Regions from separate parts of the Homo sapiens genome. Here all the other regions are linked to region 4. The links come from fine-mapping of genetic effects on plasma protein levels. Region 4 holds a variant in brackets. A gene starts in each other region. All regions are shown on their forward strands.

Region 1 (4,433 bases), not on the chromosome of region 4:
GGCCCCGCCTGGGCTTCAGGAGCCAAGGTCATATCCCCCAGGCCAACGCATCTAGGGGGAATCCCTTGGAACTCACCTTAGCTTAATTCTTTCCACCTCCTCCAACCACCCACCTCTGCTTGAAACACACACACCAACCTCCAGGATCTGATCCCCCAGCTCTTACCCTAAGTGTGCCCTCTGGACAGCAGGCAGTATATTTGGGTGAAAAGCCTTGGGTTTCCTTACCTGTTGGCAGCCGCTGAGACAAGACAGGAGGAGCCAGCTCACCTGAGCTCAGCTCTTATACCTGGGGGAAGGGAGGGGAGGCAGGGGGCTGGGCCTAAGCCACCCCTGCTATTGCAGCAGCCTGGGCTATGAGCCAGCTTTATGGGCCCCACCCTCCGCTGGCCAGAGTTCCAGAGCCTACCATGACCCTGCCACGAGGAGGGAGCCACAGAGGGCTGGGGCTGGGAAACCCCTGGCCTCCGATCAGCATGCAGAGTCACAGAGAAAGAGAAGCGAGAAGGCTGGGGAGACAGAGAGGACTTCGAGACCTCATGGGGTCACCCTAGGAAGTGGAAGGGCCCTGGCGAACTGCAGGGCAGGGAAGGAGAGGGGGTCTGAATCTGTGACCAGGAAGGAGAAGCAGGAGCCTCTGTACCCTCCATGTGTGTCTGTCTGTCTCTCTCTCTCTCTCACGTGCACACACACACACACACACACGCACACGCACACTTCTCCCAGTCAGGCCCAGCTTGGATACTGACACTCAAGCCTGCCTGGATCCCAGAGCCCAGCCTTTACCAGTCCTGGAGGCAGAGAGATGAATGTAGAGAACTTGGATCAGGAGGAAGCCAGAGAAGGGCAGCCTGATGGAGGGAGGCAGATTGAGTGAGTGTTTGCCTGACCTCCCTTCAGCTCCCCTCAGCGGCCCAGAGTGCACAAATGCAAGGCCCACTTGAGCTGCTTGGCAGCTAACACCAACTCCAAACTGGTCGGGCCACGTGTTTCTCTCTCCCTCCCTCAGAGCCCCATGCCTTCCCTAACCCAGCTGCAGAGCAACAGCCCCCCATCCAGGACCCAGAATGACATCCCAGAGAGCCCAACCCCAGTGGCCCTCCTCACCTGCCCAGGCCCAGACACCTAGAACCTGAAGTCACTGGGAGGGGGTAGGAAGAAGGGCAGAGCAGTAGGCATGAGTCAGGGCAAGGATGGGGTGCGGCCCAGAGCCAAAGTTCCCAGGATCCTTTCCTAAACGCTGAGATCAGAGCACACCCCACTACATCCCTCCTCATGTCACCTTCTCAACCTGGGGCCCTGTGTGTCTCAATGGAGAGGACCTTCCAACAATGTCTCATTCTGAGAGTTCCTCTGAAGGGCTTCAACCTGCAGGTCCCTCTGAGGGTCTCTCAGCCTGTGGGTTCCTCTGAGAGTGACTTAGCCTGGGTTCCTCAGGAGGAGGCTCAGGCTAGGGGGTTCCTCACAGGGCTTCTCACGGTAAGGGAGCCCTTCAGTGCAGGAGCCCCTCTTGAATGTCTCTGCCAATGGCCCTTTGGATTCCCAGTCTGGGAGTCTCTCTGAGGTCTCAGTCTGGGGCTCTCTAACGGAGGGTCAGGGAGCTCCCTCAGCCTAAAGGTTCCTCTGGACTCATAGCTGCCCTGCATGGATGCCTGCCAGTGAGGCAGTGACAGCCCTGGGAGGCTGGTCACCGAGATGCCCGCCCCTGCTCCCTCTGGTGGTGGCCGTGTACACCATATGCCCCTCAAGCCAGGAAGGCAAGGCAAGTTCTGCCTCCGGTGGCACCACCACACCCTCACCCCACGGTCCTTGAGCAGAACATCGGGCCCCTCCTTCTGGCTTCCCCACTGCTCCAGAGGGTAAGGGGAGGAGGCCCTAGTGTTCCTGAGCACCCAGCCAGAGAGGATCCTGGTTAATCAGAGCTCTGAAATCCACCTATTCTTGTCTTTATGACTTTAACTAAGATCTGTGTCCTGATCTTTAATACAGGAGTTAAAAATAGTGCCTTCCTCAAAGGACTGTGAGAATTAACTAAGACAATACAGGCAAAATGTTTAGCACTGCACCTGGTACTTAGTAAGCCCTCCATACCTGTTCACCACTATCATTGTCATCCAACGGACAAACTCCAAGAAAAAAGAAGCAGAGCAGGACCATGCAGCTGAGCCCGAGTCACCTCTCCTGCCCCACATCTCTGCCCCTACTTTTCTTTTTTCTTTTTGTTTTGTTTTGTTTTTTGTTTTTGAGATGGAGTTTTGCTCCTATCGCCCAGGCTGGAGTGCAATGGTGCGATCTCGGCTCACTGCAAACTCCTCCTCCTGGGTTCAAGTGATTCTCCTGCCTCAGCCTCCTGAGTAGCTGGGATTACAGGCACCAGCCCAGCTAATTTTTGTATTTTTAATAGAGATGAGGTTTAGCCATGTTGGCCAAGCTGGTCTCGAACTCCTGACCTCAAGTGATCCACCCACCTCAGCCTCCCAAAGTGCTAGGATTACAGGCGTGAGCCACTGTGCCCAGCCCTCTGCCTCTACTTTTCATATATTCATTCAACCATTTATTGGGCACCTGCTCTGTACAAGACCTGGTGCTAGATGCTGCGGAATTCAAAGATGAATAACATTCCCTGTCCTCAAGGGGCTCATAATTTTCAGATCCATCCTCAGGTCAAGAGAGAGCTTTCCCACTCTCTGGTCTCAAGAAAAGAAATCAGGATGGGGTGTAAGTAAGAAACATTTGTGTTTCAAGGAGGAAGCTTTATTTGGGAAGAGTGCGGTTCTGCTCGGCCCTGATCAGCTCTGCCCTGCCCACCCCATCTCAGCCAGGCGGCTTTACTTCTTCCTGATCTTCAGGTCTTTCTTCTTCCTGATTTCCTTGGCCAGCTCCCCAATCAATCTCCAGTACTCATTGAACTTGAGCTCCGAGTCCTGATTCACATCCAAGCTCTTCATCTTCTCATCAAGAGAGCCCACATCCTGAGGAGACACCAAAGGGAAGGGTAGAGTTAGAAACTGGGGTTCTTGAGAAAGTAGGGAGGGAAGAACTGTCAGCTGCTATTCTCTCAAGGCCCTTCCCTCAGAGAGCAGTGGCACCTGCCCCTTCTCTAAAGAAGGAGGCTGCAGCCCCAAAACTGCACCGCCACGGGGTGCCTCTCCAAGGAGCACCAGCAGAGAAAGGTGGGGGGGCCTGAGTCCTAGTGCTTGCCGTTGTGTAAATACTTCCACGATGGCTGCTTACAAACCACAAACAGGTTGTCGCTGAATACAAAGCTGGAAAGAAATCCACACAATCTTCTCTCACCAGCACACCACTGCAGCTGCTGTGGGATCGGCCCAAGGAATGCCAGCATCTCAGGGAGATGCTGCAGGGTTGGACCCAGTCAGAGCCTTCTGGGGCCACCCTCCTCTTTCTCAGAAAGCTGGAGAAGCTCCCAGTACTTAGCTGCTCATTTGCACAACCCTTGTGTCTTTTCATTTATCCAGCTGGGTCACTAGATCAGGGGAATGGCAAGGGCATGGAGTATCTGGGTTTTTAGGGGCCCTTGACAGGGTATCTCTCATAGGCCTGTGAAATCAATGGCAACAGTAAACTGGATGTCCTGATCGAAGGACCTGTTGCCAGATAAACAAGCACAACCAAAAAGTTGACTGTTGAACAATAGTTCAACATCAAACCAGAGAAGGGTGCCTCAGGCAGGGTGTGAGGCTCAAGGTTTGAACCAACATTTGGATGCAGACAGAGAAGACTCACTGAATCTCTAAAGGGAACAAAGCTGATTCACAGAAGAACTAAAAAAGACTTTTTTTTAAGTTACAACCACGTTTAATTATAAAATACTATAAGCACTGCCAGTGGAAGGCAAGGATGGCTACTGTAACATTATATTGGGGGTGCATTCAATCAGTAAAGAGAAATAAATAAGTATTAAGAAAGAAGAAGCAGGAAGGGTGCGGTGGCTCACGCCTGTAATCTCAACGCTTTGGGAGGCTGAGGTGGGCGGATCACTTGAGGTCAGGAGTTTGAGACCAGCCTGGCCAACATGGTGAAACCCTGCCTCTACTAAAAATACAAAAATTAGCCAGATATGGTGGTGGGAGCCTGTAATCCCAGCTACTCGGTAGGCTGAGACAGGAGAATTGCTTGAACCTGGGAGGCGGAGGTTGTGGTGAGCAGAGATCGCGCCATTGCACTCCAGTCTGGGCTACAGAGTGGGACTCTGTCTCAAAAAAAGAAAAAAAAATACAAAAATTAGCTCGGTGTGATAGTGCACACCCGTAGTCCCAACTACTTGGGAGGCTGAATCAGAAGAATCGCTTGAGTGTGGGAGGCAGAGGCTGTAGTGAGCCGAGATCAAGCCACTGCCCTCCAGCCTGGGTGACAGAGTGAGACTATCTAAAAAAAAAAAAAAAAAGAGCTGTGACAGAAACAAAACAAAG
Region 2 (7,462 bases), not on the chromosome of region 4:
CTGTAGTCCCAACCACTTGGGAGGCTGAGGAAGGAGACTCGATTGAACCCGGGAGGCAGAGATTGCAGTGAGCCAAGATCTCCCCACTGCACTCCAGCCTGGCAACAGAGCGACACTCCATCTCAAAAAAAGAGAAAGATCTGGCCCATAGGTTAACAACCCCTGTCCTGACATGTCCTTTCCACCATCATATCTGTGTTCCAGAAAGAGGAATGAGGAAGTGGAGGGGTTGAATTTTCTCACAAAAACATGATCCACAGGTAGAAATAGTGCAGCATAGTCACACAATAGAATACTACGCTACAACAAGAATGAATGAACCACAACTACACACAACGCGGATGAATCTCACAAGTATAATGTAGAGCAAAAGAAGCTGACACAAAAGATTGCATATTGATTGATTACATTTATATAAAGTATAAAAACAGACAAAATTAATCTATGGTATTAAAAGTCAGGTTGCCTTTGTAAGGGATAGTGACAAGAGAAGACTTCTGAGATCTGGAAATGTTCTATTTCTTTTTCTTTTTTTCTTTTAGAGACAGGGTCTTACTCTGTTGCTTAGGCTGGAGTACAGGATGCAATGGTGCAATTGTTTTATTTGTTGATCTGGATGGCATATGTTCCCATGCATGAGTGTGTCCACATGTGAAAATTCACTAAGCTTACCATTTGTGTACTTTCCTATATGTATACTCCAACAAAAAAAAGTTTGTATAAATTTCAAAAAAAAAAAAATAGTGATTCTGAAGTTGCAATCACTTCTCAGGTCTCTTTCGGCCAAAACTTAGAGGACCACTTATGACTGCAGGGAATCTGGGAAATGCAGGTTCATTAATTTTTTTAATTAATTAATTTATTTATTTATTTTAAGATGGAGTCTTGCTCTGTCACCCAGGCTGGAGTACAATGGCGTGATCTCAGCTCACGCCACCTCCCAGGTTCAAGCGATTCTCCTGCCTCAGCCTCCTGAGTAGCTGGGATTACAGGTGCACGCCACCATGCCTGGCTAATTTGTATTTTTAGGAGAGATGGGGTATCACCATGTTGGCCAGGCTGGTCTTGAACTCCTGACCTCGTGATCCGACCACCTCGGCCTCCCAAAGTGCTGGGATTATAGGCATGAACCACCACGCCTGGCCTGGGAACTGCAGTTTCCAGTTGGGTGGCCATATGCCTCTAAAATTTAGAGGATTCTCTTATTAAAAGGAAGAAGGGAAGAATGTAATCTAGGGGGAAATTAGCAGGCTGTGCTACAGTCCACACAGCAGCACAGGCCCATGACAGTTATCAAATCCTGCTGGGCATGAGCTGTGAAGACCTCCACCCTGGCAGTAGAGTAAGTTCTTTGGTTAGCCCACCTGGCTGCCCTTGCTACTGTTTTCTGGGAATAACTCCCTTGACCTTAGTTCTCTGTATTATCTGAGTTTACTCTCAGATAGGTTATTCGTTTACTATAGAGCATGGTCACACCTTTTTGTCCTTCTTCCCTTTTGCTTTTTTTTCTGCTTGGAACTTGGATATAATGGCAGGAGCTGCATCAGCCATCTAGGGGCCATGAGGGAGTCTTAGAAACCTCAGCCCTGATTTCCTTGGTCTTACGACATTAATAACTGGCTACTTCTGACATTCTTCTATGAGAAAATAAACTCTTATGGTTTAAACCACTGACATTGGGTCTTTGTTACCCAGAGCCAAACACAATTCTCAACTGATATGGAAGGCCTCCCTAAGAAGATGACATTTAAGCTGAGGCTTGAAGGGTTAGCAGGTGGCAGATACCAGAATAGCAGAGGAAAACCAAAAGCCCTTTCCACTCCACTACACTGCTGACTGTCTATCATCCTCTAGGTAGGGAGATAAGAGACTGGAGAAGTCAGGAGAGGAGATTTCAAGGTGGGATTGATTGGCCAGGAATGATAGTGATGCTGTGAGGAAAGGAGGGCTTGGTGATGTGCTCTCATCTCCATGTGTACGTTTCCTTCATGGCACTTGTCACACAGAAGTTGTGATGACATGATGAACACCCGTCTGTCTGTTCTGCTAGACTGGAGTCTCCATGAGGGCAGGGACAATCCTTTCGACTGTTTATCACTGGCATAATGCCTGGCACATGGCAACCATGGAACAAGTTATTGGATAGGCCGTAGTAGAAAGAGCTAGGGTAAGAGGAGGGAGAGAAAAGACACAGAAGCAGAAGAGTGGAAAACCTGGGATTGTGCAGGCTCCTTGTTAAGGGGACACCATCCCATTAGAGCACCACAACACTCCTCAGAGGCAGACAAGGGGGATTGAGGTCAAATGGTTCCTTCAGGCACCCACATGGCATGGGCTGTCCAGCTCACAGCCTGTCTCTCCTGGCTACCCAACAGGCATGATGAGCTCTGAGTTGGCTATCAGTGGTACCCCCCTCCCTAGCCATAACAATTGATCCAAGACATAGGTACATGACTCAGGCTGGACAATTAGAGTCCTTTCCAAGAATTTTTAAACAAGAGCTAAGAAAAGTAGCTACTTCCTCTGCAGCTATGAGAGCATGAGCCTGGGTTTCCTATCATCTGGTCAAGCTTCCCGGAGGTGGCCAGCCTGGGGTAATGAGCCTGGCACCCAGAGAAAAGCAGGGAAAGAGCCACAGAAACAAAGCACTACGGGTCGTCAAATCCCTGGTTCCCGTATGCCTCAGGTCAGCTCCACCCTGCCCTTCCTAGTTTATGAGCCAATAAATTCCTTTTGTGTTTAAGAGAGTTAGTGTTGAGCTTCTCTCTTGAAATCTATCAACTACCTTTCTCTCCAAAATGCACCCTGAATCTGACCACTTCTCATCATCTCCACTGCCACCAGCCTGGTCCAAACTACTAATATGTTTTGCCTGGATGAATATAACAGCCTCCCAATGGTCTCCCTGTTCCTCTCTTGCTCTCCTACAATCCATTTTCCACCCAGCAGGCCAAGTGATCTTAGACAAATGTCAATTAGATTATGTCACTTTCCTGCCTAAACCCTCCAGTGGCTTCTCATCACTTTTAGGGTAAAATACAAACTCCTTACCCTGTTTTACAAGGCCCACCATGAGGAGTGGATACTCCTGTCTGTCCTCTGACTTTATTCCATGCCACTTCCCCCTCATCACTATGATTCAGCTATATTGGCCACCTTTTTGTTCCAGACACATTAAGCTCATTATTTCTTCAGTGTCTTTGTACCTGCTTGCTTTCTTTTCTTTTCTTTTTTTTTCTGAGATGAAGTCTTGCTCTGTTGCCCAGGCTGGAGTGCAGTGGTGCGATCTCAGCTCACTGCAACCTCCGCCTCCCGGGTTCAAGCAGTTCTCCTGTCTCAGCCTCCTGAGTAGCTGGGACTACAGGCGCCTGCCACCACACCTGGCTAATTTTTTTATTTTTAGTAGAGACGGAGTTTCACCTTGTTGGTCAGGCTGGTCTCGAACTCCTGACCTCAGGTGATACACCTGCCTTGGCCTCCCAAAGTGCTGGGATTACAGGCATGAGCCACCACGCCTGGCCTTTGTACCTGCTTTTTCAGGTCTTTGCATGGTTAACCCCTCATCATTCAGTTTTTAGTGTAGTAATATAGTAATCATGTCTCCCCCACCTCATCCCTTTCTATCTTATTATGTTGTTTAAGATATTCACAGAAATGATCACTGCTATAATTATCTTTTAATTATGCTTTTGCTTACTTTTTTGTTGGCTATCTCCCCTGGAGTTTGAGCTCCAATGGAGCAGGGCCCTCACCTGTCTTATTTACCATGTATCTACACAGTAGATGCTCAAGTAACATTTATTCAATGAATAAATGAATGCATTACAAAATGAGGAGGAGCTGGAGTTCCAGGCAGCCCCTAGATTCCCTGTTGGGTCTTCTTTCCTCTGCCCCATGCACACACAGTACACACTGTTGACTAATGTTTAACTCATAGAGGAGTTTGGGCTTGACATGTGACCTCACTCAGCCTCTGTTTCATTTGTGAAGTAAGAAATAAGAGTGGGCGGCTGGGCGTGGTGGCTCATGCCTGTAATCCCAGCACTTTGGGAGTCTGAGGTGGGCAGATCACGAGGTCAGGAGATCAAGACTATCCTGGCTAACACGGTGAAACACCATCTCTACTAAAAATAGAAAAAATTAGCCGGGCATGATGGCACATACTTGTAGTCCCAGCTACTCAGGAGGCTGAGGCAGGAGAATTGCTTGAACCGGGGAGGTGGAGGTTGCAGTGAGCCAAGATTGTGCCACTGCTCTCCAGCCTGGGTGACACAGCGAGACTCCATCTCAAAAAAAAAAAAAAAAAAAAAAAAGGAGTGGGCTTATTTCACATAAGCCCACTCCTTGCTAAACCAACAATGATTGCCTAAGATGCACGGAGCCAGTTGGTGGAAAAGTCCATAGACTATCAGAGTTGAATGGTGCTGGTCAGGTGGGAGGAGCACCTCATTCCTGCTTCCCCATCAAGTTACTTGCCTTGGCCTGCTTCCTACTCTCTGGGTCACTGGTGCTCACACAGCCTTTCCCAACCCCCACCTCCAAAGGTCATATTTTACAGCTCCTTGTGAGGAATTCACATCATGCCATGACCTTCACTATGAGAAAGCACAGGCTGTAAAAGGCCAGCCTGGCTCCCTGCTCCGTGGTTAAATATTGATGATATTGGGCAATAGAGACCTGGAGTGGGCACACTACATATCCCCCTGCAGTGATGGAACCCACAGACCGCAGGTCCTCTGCAGTCCATTCTCCTGCCTGTCCAGAGGATCCGGATGTTTTCTCTTTACTTGAGGCCAACACATAACAATGAAAGCACTGGGCTACTGGTGCTTTCGGATTGTGAAAGTCAGGTGGAGCCTGTTTGCACTCTGAGTGCACTCATTCAAGAGGTCAGTCACCCTGGAGTGATACAGAAGGCTCCAGGCCTGGGCGTGTGCTAAGGCCAGAGCTACCAGATGGGTCCAGCTGCCGCAGGCTCTCCAGGCACTGTCCCCTAAGTGACAGCTGTTACTGCCTGGGAGAGCTCAAGTGCAAAGACTATCCTGTTCTCCCATAAAGAGGAGGAAAAGGAAGATACAGAAATCGGTGCTGCTCCCAACAGCAGATCAAGGCAGTCGTCAGGAACTCAGGATCCGGGGTGAGTGTCCTCATCTTGCCTTGGGGATGGGTGGCCCAGGTCTTTGGCAGAAGTCACAGTCCAATGGCACGATGGTTAAGCCCTGTTTAAAATGCAGAGATCTCCCAGAGGGGCTTAAGGAGACAAGACAACTAAATGCAGTATGACATCCTAAATGGGATCCTGGAACAAGAAAAGAACATTAAAGGCAAAACTAACAAAATGCAAATAAGGCATAAAGTTTAATTTAATCATGCAAATGACAATATGATGCTCACTTTAGAAGCAAACTGGATACGTGCTTTGATAGAAATATGTCTTTGGCCGGGCGCAGTGGCTCACGCCTGTAATTCCAGCACTTTTGGAGGCCGAGGCAGGCCGATCACCTGAGGTCAGGAGTTCGAGACCACCCCGGCTAACGTGGTGAAACCCCATCTCTACTAAAAATACAAAATTGGCCGGGTGCGGTGGCTCATGCCTGTAATCCCAGCACTTTGGGAGGCCGAGGCAGATGGATCACCTCAGGTCAGGAGTTCCGAGACCAGCCTGGCCAATGTGGTGAAATGCTGTCTCTACTAATAATACAAAAATTAGCTGGATGTGGTGGCGGGCACCTATAATCCCAGCTACTCAGGAAGCTGAGGCAGGAGGATCACTTGAACTCGGGAGGCGGAGGTTGCAGTGAGCTGAGATGGTGCCACTACACTCCAGCCTGGGCAACAAGAGTGAAACTCTGTCTCTAAATAAATAAATACAAAATTAGCTGGGCATGGTGGTGGATGCCTATAATCACAGCTACTTGGGAGGCTGAGGCAGGAGAATCACTTGAACCTGGGAGGTGGAGGTTGCAGTGAGCTGAGATCATGCCATTGCACTCCAGCCTGGGCAAAAAGAGTGAAACTCTGTCTCAAAAAAAAGAAAGAAATATGTCGCTTGTTTCTGTGGCATCTAACATAGCTGAGGAGGGCTGACTCTCGGTTCTGGATTTGTATCCAATTTGTCATTTTGGTTTTTTGTTGGTTGGTATGTGTTTACTGTAACAATATTAAACATATTTTAAACATATTTTGGCCAGGCGCGGTGGCTCATGCCTGTAATCCCAGCATTTTGGGAGGACAAGGTGGGCAGGTCGCTTGAACTCAGAAGTTCAAGGCTGGCCTGGGCAAGATGATGAAACCCCATCGCTACAAAAAATACAAAAATTAGCCGGGCGTGGTGGCACATGCCTGTTGTACCAGCTGCTCAGGAGGCTGAGGTGAGAGGATCGCCTGTGCCCGGGAGATGGAGGTTGCAGTGAGCCAAGATGGTGCCATTGCACTCCAGCCTGGGTGACAGAGCCAGACTCTGTCTCAAAAAACAAAAAACAAAAAAACACCACTCCACTGTGGACAATAGCTTACCTGCGTCTTTGTACACTGATCTGATTAGTTCCATTAATTAAATATCAAAAATTGGAATTGTTGTCTCAAAAGGTATAAGTACAATAATACCTACATTTAAAAATGCATACAAAGGCTGGGTGCAGTGGCTCACACCTGTAATCCCAGCACTTTGGGAGGCTGAGGTAGGCGGATCACCAACCTGGCAAACATGGTGAAATCCCATCTCTACTAAAAATACAAAAATTAGCCAGGTGTGGTGGCACATGCCTGTAGTCCCAGCTACTCAGGAGGCTGAGGCAAGAGAATTTCTTGAACCTGGGAGGCGGTGGTTGCAGTGAGCCGAGATCACACCATTGCACTCCAGCCTGGGCAGCAAAAACAAAACTCCATCTCAAAAAAAAAAAAACATACATACAAATAGACAAAATATACATAGAAATATATACACACATTAAAAATGGAATTACATGTATTGTTCTCATGAAAGCAGTGTATACGCATAAGAAACCACACAATACAGGAGTGGTCAACATGAATATCCCATGTGTCTAAATCTCATCCCACACCCTAGAAGAAGACTGTGTTTGGTTTCTCAACTTCAATACTTTTCTTTGTGAGTTCAGGGGTTTGCATATGGCACAGGGGCCTGTGGCTGATGTTACTAATCAATCCAGGCACTCTTACATCTGAGACTGGATGGAATGTCACAATCCTTCTTGGACAGTGCTCTGGACAGTCAGTTGGAGCTAGAACACAAGATCACATCTGTTGGCCATTCTTGTAACTTTGTCTTTCCATGATTTTAGATGGGTAGGTAGGCAGATAGATAGATAGACAGATAGATCGATAGATGATAGATAGATAGATAGATAGATAGATAGATAGATAGATAGAATCTCCCTCAAATGAGTAAGTAGGCAGTGTGCATGTGAGTCCTTGAAAGTCTAAGAAAGGGCCAGGCACG
Region 3 (8,020 bases), not on the chromosome of region 4:
TCCAGCCTGGGCAACAGAGCGAGACTCTGTCTCAAAATAATAATAATAATAATAATAATAATAATAATAATAATAATAATCAGAGCTCGCCAGGAAAGCAATGATAATATCTGGGTGTGGCATGGTACAGACCTCTACAATCTACCCTGAACCCTATCAAGGTAGGTAGGTAAATAATCCTGAATCTATAACCTACCCCTTCCTAGACTATTATTTTGATAATTTAGATCTATTCCAAATTTCTGATTAGCTGTTTAATGAAACACTGACCTCTGATGTCTTCATAATAGCTATTAGCACTTTCCAGGATGTTTTAATACAACAAAGATATATTTTAACTGTTTCATTATTTGAAGATTGCTACTGGTTTCAGTGCTTTGGAACATCTTTAATAAAATAGGAGCCTTGCATTTATTAGCATATTAATATTTTGGTTTGTTTAAATGTGCCATATATATTCTGTATTACATAAGGAAAACAATGACTATAGCTCTTTAAAGACAGATATCAGAACTTGGTGGAGAAATGGCTGATTCGAGGTCTGGACAGGAAATAAGCAAGTGATCTGGAACATGTCAAACCAAATACTAAAGAGGCTATCAAAGTTATTAGGATCATTTCAAAAGAACTTGAGTCACCTTGAAGAAGCTCCTGATGGCCAGAGATGGAACAAATTGCACATTAATAAGGGTAAACATTGTAATGGAGCTGATCTATTGTTTCATAAGGATACTTAAAGAAATACTAACTTATCACTGTTGGATAATATTAGTAACTTAACTCATCACTTGCAATCTGGTAAGTAAAGAGTGAGAAAGAAGTATTTTATGCCACTTAAAAAATATTAAAAATGGGATACCCAGGTAATTAAACAGTAAATGAGAAGTTTCTCCTTATAGAAAGTGTTCCAGCTAATAAAGAAAGAAAAGTTGATGAAACTAGAATATCATCACTTTGAACCACTTAATGAACTAATGATGGATTTTGGCACTTGACCATCAATGGCTACGAACGTCACAAAAGAGGGACACAATCAAACCTCCAGTGCCTCCTCATGAAAGAATACAAAATCACTTATGATTGTCGTGTGAAAAAAAAAGGACCTTGAATTGTATCAGGCTGCACCACAGGTATGCAAACAGCAAAATCCAGACTGTGGGCAATGTGATAAAACAAACAACACACACCAGTGCATAAAATTTCAGTAGGGAGAAAAAGAGATGTTGACTGAGGGAGAATCAACAGATTAAAATAGACATGAAACATATATTAACCAACCACACAGTGTGGACCTTATTTAGATCCTGATTCTAACAGGAACATTTATGAGGTAATCGGAAATTTCAGCCCTGAATGGGCTCAAATTTGACAGTTTGATTAAAATTGTCAAATCAATTTGACAATTGATTTAAAAAATTCTTATTAAATTTTTAAAGTGTAATAATGATATTGTGGTAACATTTTTTTTTTTCTGAGATGGAATCTCACTCTGTCGCCCAGGCTGGAGTGCAGTGGTGCGAGCTCGGCTCACTGCAACCTCCCCCTGCCAGGTTCAAGCAATTCTCCTGCCTCAGCCTCCCAAGTAGCTGGGACTACAGGGGCGTGCCACCATGCCCGGCTAATTTTTCATATTTTTAGTAGAGGCAGGGTTTCACCATGCTGGCCAGGCTGGTCTCAAACTCCTGACCTTGTGATCCACCCATCTCGGTCTCCCAAAGTGCTGGGATTACAGGCGTGAGCCACTGCGCCTGGTTGTGGTTACATTTTTTCAAGAATTATTATGTTTCAGAGATATATACTAAAATGCTTACAGACAAAATTATATATCTGAGATGTGCTTCAAAATAATATGGGGTGGGGGAAGTGAATACAGTAAAAATGGAGAAAGATTGGCCATCTTTCTGTGGCCACCTGGGCTGGCCAATGGAGTTGATTACCTATCCTATCTTCTTTAGTGAATATTCAAAGTTCTCCAAAAAAAAAAAAAAAAAACAAACAAAAAAAAAACTAGAAACAAAACAAAACCAAAGAATACAGGTCTTTCTTTTTTTGTATAACCTGCTCCCAATGTTTAATCAATTTAAGTATCTCAAGGGAAGAAATGTATCAGAACTAACTAAAAAACTGGCATATATGTAGCATGAGCTACATTAAATATTTGCAAAAGCAGCCCATTTTTTTAACCTAAAAACAGCAGCCCATTTTTTTTGCCTTCTTTATTTTACTTTTTTAAATATTTACTTACTTATTTAAAAGTCACCAATATATCCATTTGTACTCATTAGCACTACTGATCATTGAATGGAAAATCAGTCTATACAATAAAGCTGTATTCATGTAGTTAAGTTTAATTAAGTTCATCATTATTTTAATAGAACAGAAATATAGCAACACATAGGTATGAGATGTCTGTTTACTAAAGATCAGGTACAAAAACAAAACCAGAGTTCTTTCATCCTTGGAGTGGATAAGGTAGCTTTTAATCCAGTATACAAAATACTTTTTTCATTTAAATACTTTGTGCTATTTCCACTGATTGACATTTAAACAATCTTTAATTGTACCATATATGCTAAAAATGATAAGGTCAATGTCCCAACATCCCAGCCTGCTCTTTTCATACCTTGTTTTTCCATTATCTATTGATAGATATCAGTTATCAATTTGTTGGTTATGTCTATGTCAATGGACTTTCAAGAGAAACATAACAAATTGCTAAAATACAAATCCTGTCAATTAAAAGGTAGGGTGATGACACATCAAAATACTGACTTTAAAATGCCAATACATATATATATCCACGGTCTTAGTTTGATTTTCTTATGATTTAGGAATTTTATCATTTCCCCCTCAAGTTTTTCATGACCCATTTTTTTTGTCTTTGAGGCTCTGAAAATGATCTTTATTGTCCCACACCCTGCGATTCACCTGTTCAAACCCAGAAGTGAAGGGCGGGAATCAGGACCCGGGCTCCGGATGGAATCAGACCATGTTTTTACCACAGAGTCCTTAAATTAGGGAGGCCTGCTTGATATACAACTAAGGAAAATTGTCCTTTAATTAAGGGGCATTTGTGTTCCTCTGTGATTTTTTTTTGCAGCAATATGAAAACATTTATGAAATGTTTATCCTCACATTCTGAAGTGCACTTTTTTGAGTCCTTGGCTCATTTTCAATTACTGAAATAACCAAAGAAAGAACAAACAAATCCAAACAAGTACATGGAAAATACATTTTCCCCCTTCTCTTATTTCTCTAGTGTACAGTCTGTTCTTGTTTATGATATTTATATCAAGATCCCCTTTCTTGCATAAAATTGATAATTAAAAGGAAAACACTTACCCAGAACAAGAAGTTGAAGGTAAACATAGAATATTTTATACAGGCACTCACACCTGCCATTTCGGAAAAGGATTAGGAATCCAGATGCCGTGAATTTAACTATTCGTTACAGGCTTGTCCTGCAATATGCTCTGGAGCAACTTGCCTGCAGAGATTTCTGTATCCACGGCTTCAGAGCAGAAAGAGAAAGCAAAGAAGTAGAGGGAGGAATAAAAAGTTATTAAACTGGATAAAAAAATTAACCCACACATTTAAATATCGCAAAGGCTATTAACCCACACATTTAAATATCTCAAAGGCTATTAACTCACACATTTAAATATCGCAAAGGCTATCTCCAGGCAAGTATGTTCCTTTGCTTGTCATAGCTCCTGGGGCACTGGGCCAGGATATTTATGATCCTTTCTCAAAAACTGCCTCCTCTAAAGTAAACAGATATCAAGTGAAGGGAATGGCACTGGATCAGGCAAGAGAATGGCACAGTGCTACTAAGTTCTTGGCTTTCAGAAACCACTGCCTGACTTCCCCGCCCTCCATTTCAACTATGGGGAAATAAGGTTGTTTTGTTCTGAGTTAAATGGACATTGTATCTCTACTCATTTTTGCATTGCATTTTCTCAATACTACAAAATTCCTTCTAAATGCAATAAAATGCATTTAGAAATCTGCAAAATATCAAAGCTTAGACATAGCAACCTGTTATCATTAAACCTAGAATAGTAAAATAACCATTACATGTATCTGCCCTCCAAAACATCTAAATTTATTTCAAAAGAATTCCAGAGCTGCCGTAAATACACCACAGAAATTGCAGAGGGAGAGGCAGCCTTGCCTATCATGATAAGACCATTTGCTTTTTATCTTTATTTCTTTATGATACAAAGGGAAAGAAATCATAAAGTGGCACTGACTGCAACATTGTTTTCATTTTATAATGCGTAGTCATTCTGATAGCTTGGTTTGTTTTTAAGGTGGACACTGTAATTTCCTTCCTCTGATAAATTGTATCTAGCAACAGCTGTTCTCCACCAACTCAGTTTCTGGATTCCAGGTCCTCCCGGACAAAAAAATTCAAAATGGGAAGGTGGTCATGGATCAGTGACCATAGATTTTACTATTTGTTTCTAGTGCTAATAGAAGGCAGCTGTCTCAGGTAAAGGCAAAATGCTCCGACATCATCAGGGAGGTGTGGACTGCTTTGTGTAAACAGCCTGGGTCATGTTAGTTTCCACATCCTGCCTCTCAAAGGGAGTTCTTCTCCCCCTAAATAAAAGAACCCTCTACTTTAAAAGGTTGTTGAGAAAATTATTCTTTAGAATCTTTGCTAAGTTTTACACGATAAGCAAGCATGAACTCCTTACAAAAGAAAAATATTATTTCTAATTTTCACTGGCATACAATGTTTTTGAAACAATTCTACTCCCTGACTACAAATACAATATATTTTAATGCATTATCAACAATAATATATAGCGTTAAAGGCCAAATTTAGGATTAATTCCAAAAATAATGGCTTAATATATAAATCATCACTAAAATTGTTTGTGTTCTCTTTCCTACTAGAAAATGGATAGTTTCACAACCTTCTATTGAGATATTTTGTATATAGAATAATCCAAGGCTGAAAGAATAATTTCAGATTGAATGAAAACCAAAATTGATTCATAGTCCCAGAAATGATTATTTATCAGAGGCTAAAATTAAAAAAAAATTACAGATTTAAATGCTGCTTTGTTGAAAAGAATGTATTGAATACTACCAAATTTTAGTTTGAAATAGATATTTTGGTGGATGCTGAACATCCTTAAAAAGAATACTGTGTAGTCTTTAGTTGAATCACTCTTGAACTCTGTAACACAAAAATCAATGGATGTGTTTGTACAGGAGAATGACTGTGTAATAGAACCCCTAGTCTAATTCAAAACCTATATGAAACAGTTCACTCCTGGAAATTCCTATTCCTATTAATGTTATAATCACACAACACTCTCCCAGGCTGAATTTGTACAGATATTTTGTATTTCTCTTTCTTTCCATCCAATCACTCTTACTGGTCTGTGTAGCTCCTAAATTACTGTCAAAACTATTTCTTCCATCTCATCCTTTTGCATTTCATTATTCAGTCCTTTATCATTTCTTACTTGAGCTGTGTCAATAGAATGAGAATTAATTTCCCTGGCAGTTTCTCCCAGTTCCTCTCTGCCTTAGCACTTTAAAATTCTTTTTGAGAAATACTTATTGATTAGGTAATGATAATGATGAAAACCCAATCTAAGGATATTTTCCTTTTACCTACAAGATAAAGTTCAGATTCCTTAAAGTAGCATTTACAGCACACAGCAAACAAGTCCTCCACCCACTTTCCAGAATTTTGTCCCTCCCCTTTCTTCCTAGGCAGCCTCCACTTCTAGGCTCCATAACCACAGAATTATTTCCCAGGCCTAGAACACACCTTTGGATTTTATGCCTTGTTCCTTCTGCCTGGAATATCCTTTCCCACCTTCTCTATTGCAACATCCCTGTGGAGCCTTCCCTTCCTCATCCTCTGCCCCCACTCTGGGCAGATTTACTTGCTTCTCAGTCCTCAAGTCCATTATTATTTGAACAGACCTTAAATCTACAATTGCCACTATATCACATTTATTTGTGTCTCTCCCCCACATTTGATTCTATATGCCTGAAAAGCAGAAATCTTACCCTATTCACCTCTGTACCTACAGTAGCTGGCATTAGAGCTACAGAGATTTGCAATGGCAGCCAAGCTCCTCAGAAAGTTCAACTAGTGATTTCCTCATTAGGTTCTCTAGGGAACTACCAATATGCTACCTCTGCCTTTAAAAAATCTATTAGGTCAAGAAAAACAGTTTATTAATTTCAGGACTTGTCAGAGCCTTCAACTTTCTAATATTCAAGGAGGTGATATATAGCAATTCTGAAATGAATATAATCTCAGAACATATTTTTGAATGACATATTCAGGACTGGTGTTACAGAACACACATACGCACTTACAGAAGCACTGTTCTAGACAAACTCTCACTCTTACACCTGAGAAAAGAGCAGCATAGGCAGATTGAGTAGCCCAAGTTCACAAAACTGGTTAGATCTCCTTCTAGAAACAAGGTCACAGGATTATCAGATCAGTATTCTGTCTACTGGCGTCAACAATCTCTTGAGTTCTGTAGTATGAGAATGAGTCATTTACTCATTACTCATTTAACGTGTCTTAGATATTGAGAAATTTTCATATAACAGATATTTTAACAGTGGTGGGAGGTTGCAGGGGTTGGAGATTGTCAGTAATAAATCTTAGACCCTGTGAAAGACCGGGCCAGTAAGGAAAGAAATGGAGAGTGAAATATTATAAGAAGAAATGACAATCGAGGGAAAGAACAGAGGGAAAGTCTAAGTAAATTTAGATAAAGTTTTTCTAATGTTGCCATCATGCCAATTACTATTCATTGCAGCAAATGCACAGAGTAAGGCAGGATAATGATTCCAATTTGATTAATTGTGAAAAGTCTCCATGAGGCAGTCATCAGTGAACTAGATTTTGATAGCAGTATGGGAACCCATGCAGGGGAAAGAAAGAGAGAGAGAGATTCCTTATGCTCAGGGCAGAGGAAAGTGCATGAGTAGTACCATCAAATACCCCACAGAAAATATGGCATTTTCTCTAAGTCATCAGGCAAACCAGGCCTACGTTTGGGACTTGGACCAGAAATTAAGCATAGATAGTTCATATTTTCATCATGATATCATCTTCTCCTCCATAAGATAATATTCAAAAATTTATTCAACTGATGTATTGAATCCTTACCATATTCCAGGAATGAGACTAAGTGCTGGAAACATAGTAATTTATGAAACAAGATAAAAATCCCTGCCTTCCTAGGCCTTACACCATGGTGAAAAGGTAACTTCTTTGCCTTTTTGTTTCCAACATCTCGTTACCCGATATATTTGTCCATGGAATAGACAGTAAAAAAGCAATTCATGTGTGGTAGAGAAAAGATTATTTTTTTCTCTTGTCTTTTATACTCTCCCATTATCACTGTCCCTCTATACTATTTGTTTTTCATGACGTTGTTAATAATCAATTCATGTTCTCAAAGGCTAACAGCAGCAATAAAAACATAATGTTGAGATTTCTCTTCCTTATGACTGTACTGAGGGGTGTGTATGTAAGGACATGAGATCATACACTCTGAACAATTTGAGTGAAGAGATTCTGGTGCTTTTAGCATGTCTCATTTTGAAAAACCTTTTTTATTTTTGGAAAGTTGGAGTTCTCACTTAGGGGTTTTATGGTCTCTTTTACAGGAGCAGAGCCTTGGCTCTTGTGTTCTAGTCCCATTCTAGCCTTCCTGAGACCAATATTCTTCTTCTGCTTTCATGTGATCCCAATGCTCTGTTTCCTACCCTCTGTGCTTATGGAGCCTGGCTCATAAAAACCTTTCATGTATTCCCACTGGAAATGCACCAGATAGGAAGCATCCGGTATGGGAAAGATGCCTCTCCTCTCTTTGCAGGACATTTTAAAGCAACTGTCTCTACTTGAGAGTATTAATTCCAGCTCAGAACTAAAGTAGGGGTTAGAATTGTCATTGTGAAGTAGCAATACAGTGTTTACAGAAAATGGATACCCAGTATTCAACATTCTTCCTCTTCTATAGAT
Region 4 (8,020 bases):
TTTTCTTTCCTGACCAGATGAGGCCAGATGAAGTTTTTCAGGGACCTGGGGTTGACTGGGAAAGGGACTCTGTCTTTCTTTACACCCACAGTGTGTGGCTTCTGCTTGTAGAGGTGGATGTTGTAACTTTGGTCTCCAGTGGGCTGGTGATCTTGCTCTTTTCTTTCCCCATGCTCTGTTTGTTTTACGTATGCCTCATATGCCCATGTTCTCTCTGTAAAGTGCCTGTCTATGTAGATGAAAAAGCATCCACTCATGGTTACACATTGAATCCATAACTTGGTCTTTAATCAAGTTTACACAGTAGATATCAGAGGAAAGAAAGGTAGAAAGAAGAATGAGAATGAAAGAGAGTGGTGGTGAATGGATTCATGTGGTGGGACTGGGAGCCAGATAGATTTGGAACTGAACCTTTCTGTATTCCCAAACTGTGGGAACTGTGCAAATCATTGAACCCCTCTGAGCTTTTGTTTCCTCATTTGTAAAATGGGTGGAGTTATGTCTGCCTTACAGTGCTGTTGTGAGAATTAAATGATGAAATGGCTATAAACTTCTTGGCACAAGACACTTAAAAATGTGGGGTAGAGAGGAGTAAGTACAACAATTTGCAGCAGTGGTTTTATTTTAGTGGTACCAGCTGCATGGTCTGCCTCCTCTCGATCCAGATGTCAGCATCTGAGGGGGCTCACAGGTGTTTACTGAATCACTGGAGCATGAAGTTGTACCAAACACGTCTGCCCATAGAGCTGTGTAGAGAATAGACTGTGGGCTATTCCAGCTTCCTGGTGACCTTGGGCAAATAATCACCCTGAGCCACAATTTAGAAAGCAGTGATAACATCTTGTGAAGCAGTCAGTTCATTTATTTTCTATGTTAAAGAACTAGAAAAACCAACAGCAAAAAGGTGAGCTTGGAGGCCTGGGCAAACATGGTGAGCAGGGTTAATATCTGTAGAAAGTAAAAAGTTTCCTCTTCAAAGTGTCCCTTGTTGTTAAAGGAAAATAATAATAATAATAAACATTAGAAATAATAATTTCTTTTAAAGACTAACTTTCTTCAAGCCCCCTTACTTTGTGCTAGTAACTCTTTGTTAAGCCCTATTCTATGTAGCTGTTAGATATAAAGGAATAAGTACATTCTATGTCCTTGTACTTTAACCAAGATATTTATGCTGAACATGCTCACAGGTACATTCCAGCTTGCAGCCTATGCCCCTTCCTTATTTGGAAATATTATTACTTTTCTAAGTCCTTTCACAAGCAACGTCCTCTTTTCCTTTGTTGTCTATTGCCTATACCTATTTAGAAAAGTTTTAAATTATTAGCCAGTCAGGTTTTAGCTTAGATTGTGATGTCTGGCTCCAGCCAATGGAGACAGGACACAGTAGCAGGGACAAGCTGCATAAGGGATACGAATTACTTCCCTCCATTGTTCAGGTGTGCTGTCACCATTGTGCCATCTGTGAGGAGCACTCTTTCTGCAGAAAGTAAAATTGCCTTGCTGAGAAAACTTTTTGTCTGAATGCTCATTTTTCCTTGTGGTACTGAGGAACAAGTATTCTGTTTCTGAATAAATATTTTACATATAACAATATCTTTGTTTTTCAAACTTCTCTCTTTTTCCGTTTTCTTTTCTCTTTTCCTATTTTTCTTTTCTTTTCACTCTTGACCTCTTATGATGACCTTTTCCTCCATTGAAGTGCTAATTGATTTTTCATTTTCTCCTTATTTCAAAATTTATTCACATCACAGAATATGGTATAAGTCATTCACACTGCAGTTAGAATTATTCAGTATTTCCATGAGTCATTTCTCAGAAGGGAATGTATATCAAAAGGAGAATATTTTATGGCTTAAATTATTAAATTATTACAGTGAGTATTGTGGAATCAAAATTCCTCACTCAGCAGACAGGTTCTTTGAGAGGGATATAATGGTCACCACTCACGTAAACTATGGTTTTTAGCTCTATGGAAGGCGTCCGCTGACAGAGCAGCCAGAGAGTCAAGCAGCATGAAGGCAAAAGCAGGTGGTAGTGGAGGGTCACCCTAAAGTCTCTTGTCAGGAGGTTATATATGATATTAAGGTTCTCTCCTGGAGTCTGAAGAATCTTGTATATCAAAAGCCCATACTGAATAGGGCATGTCAAGGAGGACAATTTTTTTTTTGGTCTAATGGTAATGGTAAGAGTAGGAGAGAGAGAAGAGGCTACAAACATTGTAATACAGATCATCCCCAATTAGTATTCACAAAGTTTATTCTAATTCAGTTGTATATTCCCTCAATCACCCTAAATCACAGAAGCAGTCTTTCTCAGAAATGGAAGGCATTTCAGCCCAGCTTCCTATCCCAATAGGAGTCCCTTTTACAAGCATCCAGGTGGCTTATCATTTAGCCTTTGCTTGGATGCTTTCTTCAATGGGAAACCCACACCTTTCTGAGGCAGCTCATTGGGATTTTTTTCCAAGGTCAGTGGGGAAAAAAACCCAGGTATTTGGGGCATATAGTGTACCTGGTGATTGTTACTGATTTACTATTTTGCCCACATCTTGTCTTTTGTTCGTGATAGTTCTGTGGGAAATGCCTATTCCTGGTATACCAGGAACTCTCTTGTTCTTCCTTTGACCCTCATCCCTAAGTTACAACAATAACTTAATCTCCCACTATAATTTGTTTCCCCAGAAACAGAAAATAAGGTTTTTGGGATGAGGGTGAAATGAGACAGAGTCATTACTAGTAAATTTGACTCCTGGAGCATGACTTTGCCATTAAATCAACTTTTGGGTCAAGGTGTGGCTCACAGTCGAGTGTTAGAAACAGTGTGTTTCGTCTAGCAGTTTTCTGTTGTAACACTCTGGATTGCTTACTCAGTGCTCTATTTTGAAACCATTATGTGATTTTAAAAAATTTCTTCAGGCTGGGCGTGGTGGCTCATGCATGTTATCCCACTTTGGGAGGCTGAGGCCGGCAGATCACTTGAGGTCAGGAGTTTGAGACCAGCCTGACCAACATGGAGAAACCCCGTCCCTATTAAAAATACAAAAATTAGCCAGGCGTGGTAGTGCATGCTTGTAATTCCAGCTACTAGGGAGGCTGAGGCAGGAGAATTGCTTGAACCCAGGGGGTGAAATTTGCAGTGAGCCGAGATCACGCCCCTGCACTCCAGGCTGGGTGGCAGAGTGAGACTCCATCTCAAAAAAAAAAAAAATTTCTTCAATTCAAGTGTCTGGATGCAAAATCCTATGACCATTAACTAGTGACACTCTGGGTTAAGGAATAGGTGCAAGCTCCCATGTCCCCAAAGCTTAAGCCTCCTCAGTCCAGACTGAGGGCTGGGGAGGGGGCTCCTTTCCCTGGTGATTCAAATTGAAGAAAAGACAGGTTCTCCCATAAGGTCAAGGTTTGGAATTTACATTCTGCCATCACTCTCCAAACGCAGGGGTGACTTTATAATGAAATCAGGCAAAAACTCCTACTAGGGCAATAACGGTCAGGTGTGAGCCTGGTCTGAGAGCCTAGCAGGGGGTAAGCAGAGAGTTTGAGGGTAACAGTCAACAGTCTTACAGATGGATGACTTACCTATGTTATCATAGGGAATTACGATGCTCCCAGAGTCGACCCACATTTTGGTATAGATAAGGAGGCACAGC[G/A]GCATCATTCCGAGGGCAAGCAGTGTGGAGCATGTGGTCATGCTGACGCTGAAAGGCAATGGGCAGATTGATACATCCACCTGTGGTGTTCTAGGGAAGATGCTGTTTTATTTTTATTTTTTAATTTAACTTTTATTTTAAGTTTAGGGGTATATGTGCATGTTTGTTATATAGGTCAACTTGTGTCATGGGGGTTTGTTGTACAGATTATTTCATTGCCTAGGTATTAAGCCTAGTACCCATTAGTTATGTTTCCTGATCCTCTCTTTCCTCCCACCCTCCACCCTCTAATAGGCCCCAGTGTCTGTGTTCCCCTCTATGTGTCCATGCGTTCTCATCATTTAGCTCCCACTTATAAGTGAGAACATGCAGTATTTGGTTTTCTGTCCTTGTGTTACTTTGCTAAGGATAATGGCCTCCAGCTCCATCCATGTTCCTGCAAAAGACTTGATCTAGTCCATTTTTATGGCTGCATAGTATTCCATGGTGTGTATGTACCACATTTTCTTTATCCAGTCTATCATTGATGGGCAATTAGGTTGATTCCATATGTATGCCATTGTAAATAGTGCTGCGGTGGACATATGTGTGCATGTGTCTTTATAATAGAACGATTTGTATTCTTTTGGGTATATACCCAGTAATGGGATTGATGGGTTGAGTGTATTTCTGTTTTTAGGTCTTTGAGGAATTGCCACACTGCTTTCCGCAATGGATGAACTAATTTACACTCCCACCAACAGAAGATAAGTATTCCTTTTTCTCTGTAACCTCGCCAGCATCTGTTAATTTTTGCCTTTTTAATAATAGCCATTCTGACTGATGTGATATGGCATTTCATTGTGGTTTTGATTTGCATTTCTCTAATGATCAGTGATGTTGAACTTTTTTTCATATGATTGTTGGCTGCATGTGTGACTTCTTTTGAGAAGCATCCGTTCATGTCATTTGCCCACTTTTTAATGGGTTTGTTCATTGTTTTCTTGGAATCTAATTAAACTAAAGAGCTTCTGCACAGCAAAGGAAACTATAAGCAGAGTAGACAAACAACCTCCCGAATGGGAGAAAATTTTTATTTTCGATTCATGATAAGAAAGTCCTGCAAGAATCTGTCTCAACCTGTAGCATCGTCTGGTGTGATGAACAGTAATATACATGTGCCTATGTGCCTGAGTGTATTCAGGGCCTGGCCTTGAGCAAAATGGGCCATATTTGGTGTCTTTCCACTTTGCCTTGTGCCGTCCTTCCCTCCCCTTTTATTCTTAAGGGTCAGAAACAGTATTAAACGATGGGTTAAAGTCATCATTAAATAATGTATAAGGTTCGCTGGGTGTGCCATCCTTCAAACATTCAATCAAAGAACAGCAAACACATTTAAAGCAGCTGACACCACCAAGGCTGCATGTGTCTGACCATGCTGAGATGGAATGGGCCTCCCTGGGCCCCTGGAATAGAATGCATGTCCGAGGGAGGAGGCCTCGCTGTGTTGCCATAAAGCAGAAAAATTACTGCCCAAGTGACCCTAGCTTGGGACAAGAAGCGGAAGCTGACTTAAAAATCAAAAGAAAGCATGCAAGCGGCAGGGTAGACATAAATTCTTAGCACTGAGTAAGTTATTGGCAATTTGGCAAATGTGTGTTCAGAAGAACTAGTGTCTGGTATCATCCCTGCTCAGAGTGTTTGCATTTTAATAAGAGGGTCTGGCTGAGTAGGCTATCTACATGGAGACATTAATGCCAAATGATGCTATCTCTAGTACTAGGACAGTGGGTCAAAGAAAGATTTTTGGGGAGTGAGTCTTCCGGGTCCTCTTCAAAGGGATCTGTACACAGCGTACATTCTCTGCCTTTAAAGCCTGAGCTCTAAAGCCACACACTGTCTGGGCTGAAAGCAGGCGGTGCCACTTAGTGTGTTAATTTGAGTAATTTAGTTGACTTCTCTTTACCAGTTTCCTTATCTAAAATGGCTGTAAGGATAGAATGAGCCAATGGTGTCCGGCACTTAGACCAATGCAAAGCACTCTATTAAGAGCTGGTTGCTACTACCATTTTTTTTTTTTTTTTTTTTTTAAATAGGGTCTCTCTCTGTCACCCAGGCCAGAGTACAGGGTCACCAACTTGGCTCACTGAAGCCTGGGCTCAAGTGATCTTTGCACCTCAGCCTCCCGAGTAGCTGGGAATACAGGCATGAGCCACCATGCCAGGCTAATTTTTAAATTTTTTGTAGAGATGGGGTTTCACCATGTTGTCCAGGCTGGTCTCAAACTCCTGGGCTCAGGTGATCCGCTCGCCTAGGCCTTCCAAAGTGCTGGGATTACAGGCGGGAGCCACCGCACCCTGCATCTCTCTGCTGTGATCATTTATGTTACCATGTTTTTGTATCTTGTGTTCCACCAAATAGAATCGGGAAACTTAGAGAAATGAGAAATTTCTCTGAAAGGCCCTTCTCTCAACAGGTCGTCATTGAGGTTGTCAAGAGTAGTAATTTCTTAAGGGTATTATGGGTGTACTTGAAAGAAAATGTTAAATATTTATATTACCTGCCCCCCAAAACAACAACAACAACAACACACTATACTAAGAAAGGAGCTAACAATGAGAAATTTTGTTTCAAGGCACAGTTAAATTTGCACAGTTTGGCAAAATACAGGGTGGGACAAAGTTCATCAGAGAGCTTAACTTCTCTAATAATATATTTATTTTTAACCAGAATGACCTCATTTAAAATAGGCTTAAATAATTTAGATAAAAATACTTGTTTTAGTAGAGCTAAAATATTACAACAGTAACAAATAATGTGGATGTATTTAAAACTTTAAGCAGTTCAATCTATTCTGGTTATAGGTAAATTTAGGCATGAAATAGATGCTAAGGCAGAATTGTACACCAGACAAACAAGTTAATTTGTTATTAATAGTACTTTGTCCTACTTATAATGAAAGTACTGGAGTTTGAAGGTAATTTTTTTCTCTGTTCCTTCCTCTCTTCTTTCAGTGTTCTCTTTTTTTTTATTTTATTTTAAAAAATATATTAGAATGGATTTAAAGTTGTCCCTATAATAAAATCACTTTTTTTTCTGTGCATCCAATATTTTTTTCTAGAGTGTGGTGGGAATCTGGTGGGGAAGTGAGGAGGATTTATTAACTGGGTTCCAGTGAAGAGAAGTCTGAGAATTTTTGTTTTAAAATGTGAGAAAATGTTTAAGAAGGAAGTCTTTTTCTGTCTTTGTTTTTTTTTCAAAGATCCTTGCAAAACCTTTAATTCTGAATATTGCTAAGACAATCTATGACGTTGTATCATAATTTTGAGTTTGGTGAGAGCAGTTTCTTAAGGATCGTGATGAGGGACAAAAGAGGGTTTGGAGAAGGAAAGGTTTAGACTTGTGAGCAGCACTGACGAAGAGACCTTGCAGATGAACAGACGAATAGGTAGCTGGAAGTTGATGCTATTTGAATGAATATAAGAACAAAATCAAACCACTCAAAATGAGATTTAAAACAATTCACAGATAACGAATTTTAAGAAATAATATAGAAGCCTAAATTAGCAAAAGAAAATATTATCTTACACGAAAAAATCTGAAGTTCTATAAAAGGCATGTATATAAAAAATACATACACTGCCTTGAATTTATATTAGACTGACAGAAAAGAGTCAAGTATAAGAAAAATAAAAAAAAAATCTTGGTCTTAATTTTGACTTCAGCTCTATTAACTGCCAGGGAGATTTTCTTTTGTGTGTATGGAAATAAAAGAAAGAATAAATGTAAATTTAGTGAATGTTGAGGAATTCAGTGAAATCAGTGTTAAGCAATGTAAAAGATTGTAATCATATTAGAAGTAAAATACCAAGTTTGAAGGCTCTAACGTAGCGTATATAGGCAGTGCTAGAAACTGGAGAAGTGAAAAGTGATAGAAGCAGTGTAGAGAAAGCTTATGAGCCTGCAAAGTGGTAGTGGGTAGACCTGGGTGATTCCAATTCTGACTCAGGCATACATTGACTCAATGACCTTGGTCAAGGTTATGAATCTTAACTTCATTATCTGCCAAATGCAGAAAATAATAGTACTAACTTTAGAGGATTCTTGGGAGGATGAAATATACCAACTTATTTTGAGTACTTAGCACTGTGCATGGCATATACTAGTGTTTAATAAATATTAGCTAGTAAAATCAGTGCTACTGGAGAGAAACAATGTTTGGTTACTTTTAGGGAGAATAAAGGAAAAAGCCGAATGGTTTTGGGTTAGGTCTCCCAGAGTAGAGAAGAGAAGGACATTTATGGGGTTGACATAGGAAGGATTGATTGCTGTGAATTTGTGGTAAGCTACAGGGTGAGATTTCTTGAATATCTAAAATATCAATGAATGCTG

Direction of the effects. Alleles are on the strand shown, and positions count from the first base shown. The strength of an association depends on the size of the effect and on how common the allele is.
For the plasma level of the protein whose gene starts at base 259 in region 1, A is the low allele of the variant in region 4 and G is the other (weak association).
With allele G in place of A in region 4, the plasma level of the protein whose gene starts at base 4,942 in region 2 is higher (weak association).
As copies of A replace G in region 4, the plasma level of the protein whose gene starts at base 3,723 in region 3 goes down (weak association).

What was found. PIP is the chance, under the fine-mapping model, that this variant and not a neighbour inherited with it causes the effect. The UK Biobank Pharma Proteomics Project read protein levels with antibody pairs (Olink). The fine-mapping took linkage between variants from a reference panel, not from the people measured, so its PIPs are less certain.
Region 1: it holds the start of S100A14, and the variant in region 4 is fine-mapped to the plasma level of the S100A14 protein (UK Biobank, PIP above 0.99).
Region 2: it holds the start of SLC51B, and the variant in region 4 is fine-mapped to the plasma level of the SLC51B protein (UK Biobank, PIP above 0.99).
Region 3: TSPAN8 starts here. The variant in region 4 is fine-mapped to the plasma level of the TSPAN8 protein (UK Biobank, PIP above 0.99).

The regions. Positions count from the first base shown.
Region 1 is chr1:153,616,067-153,620,499 of GRCh38, forward strand. It overlaps S100A14 (S100 calcium binding protein A14), which reads right to left and starts at 259. Exons shown (of 4, transcript NM_020672.3): 1 at 229-259. S100A13 (S100 calcium binding protein A13) reads right to left here. Exons shown (of 3, transcript NM_001024211.2): 3 at 2,733-2,972. The coding sequence ends at 2,829. RefSeq lists an enhancer at 198-698 and a silencer at 379-428.
Region 2 is chr15:65,040,446-65,047,907 of GRCh38, forward strand. SLC51B (SLC51 subunit beta) reads left to right here and starts at 4,942. Exons shown (of 4, transcript NM_178859.4): 1 at 4,942-5,137. It also overlaps a transcript of RASL12 not described here.
Region 3 is chr12:71,154,277-71,162,296 of GRCh38, forward strand. It overlaps TSPAN8 (tetraspanin 8), which reads right to left and starts at 3,723. Exons shown (of 9, transcript NM_004616.3): 1 at 3,654-3,723; 2 at 3,343-3,511. The coding sequence starts at 3,402.
Region 4 is chr13:103,054,686-103,062,705 of GRCh38, forward strand. SLC10A2 (solute carrier family 10 member 2) reads right to left here. Exons shown (of 6, transcript NM_000452.3): 2 at 3,579-3,697. Among named protein-coding and RNA genes, the nearest start is that of SLC10A2, 7.7 kb to the right of the region's middle. The variant G/A (reference allele first, on the strand shown) is at 3,650.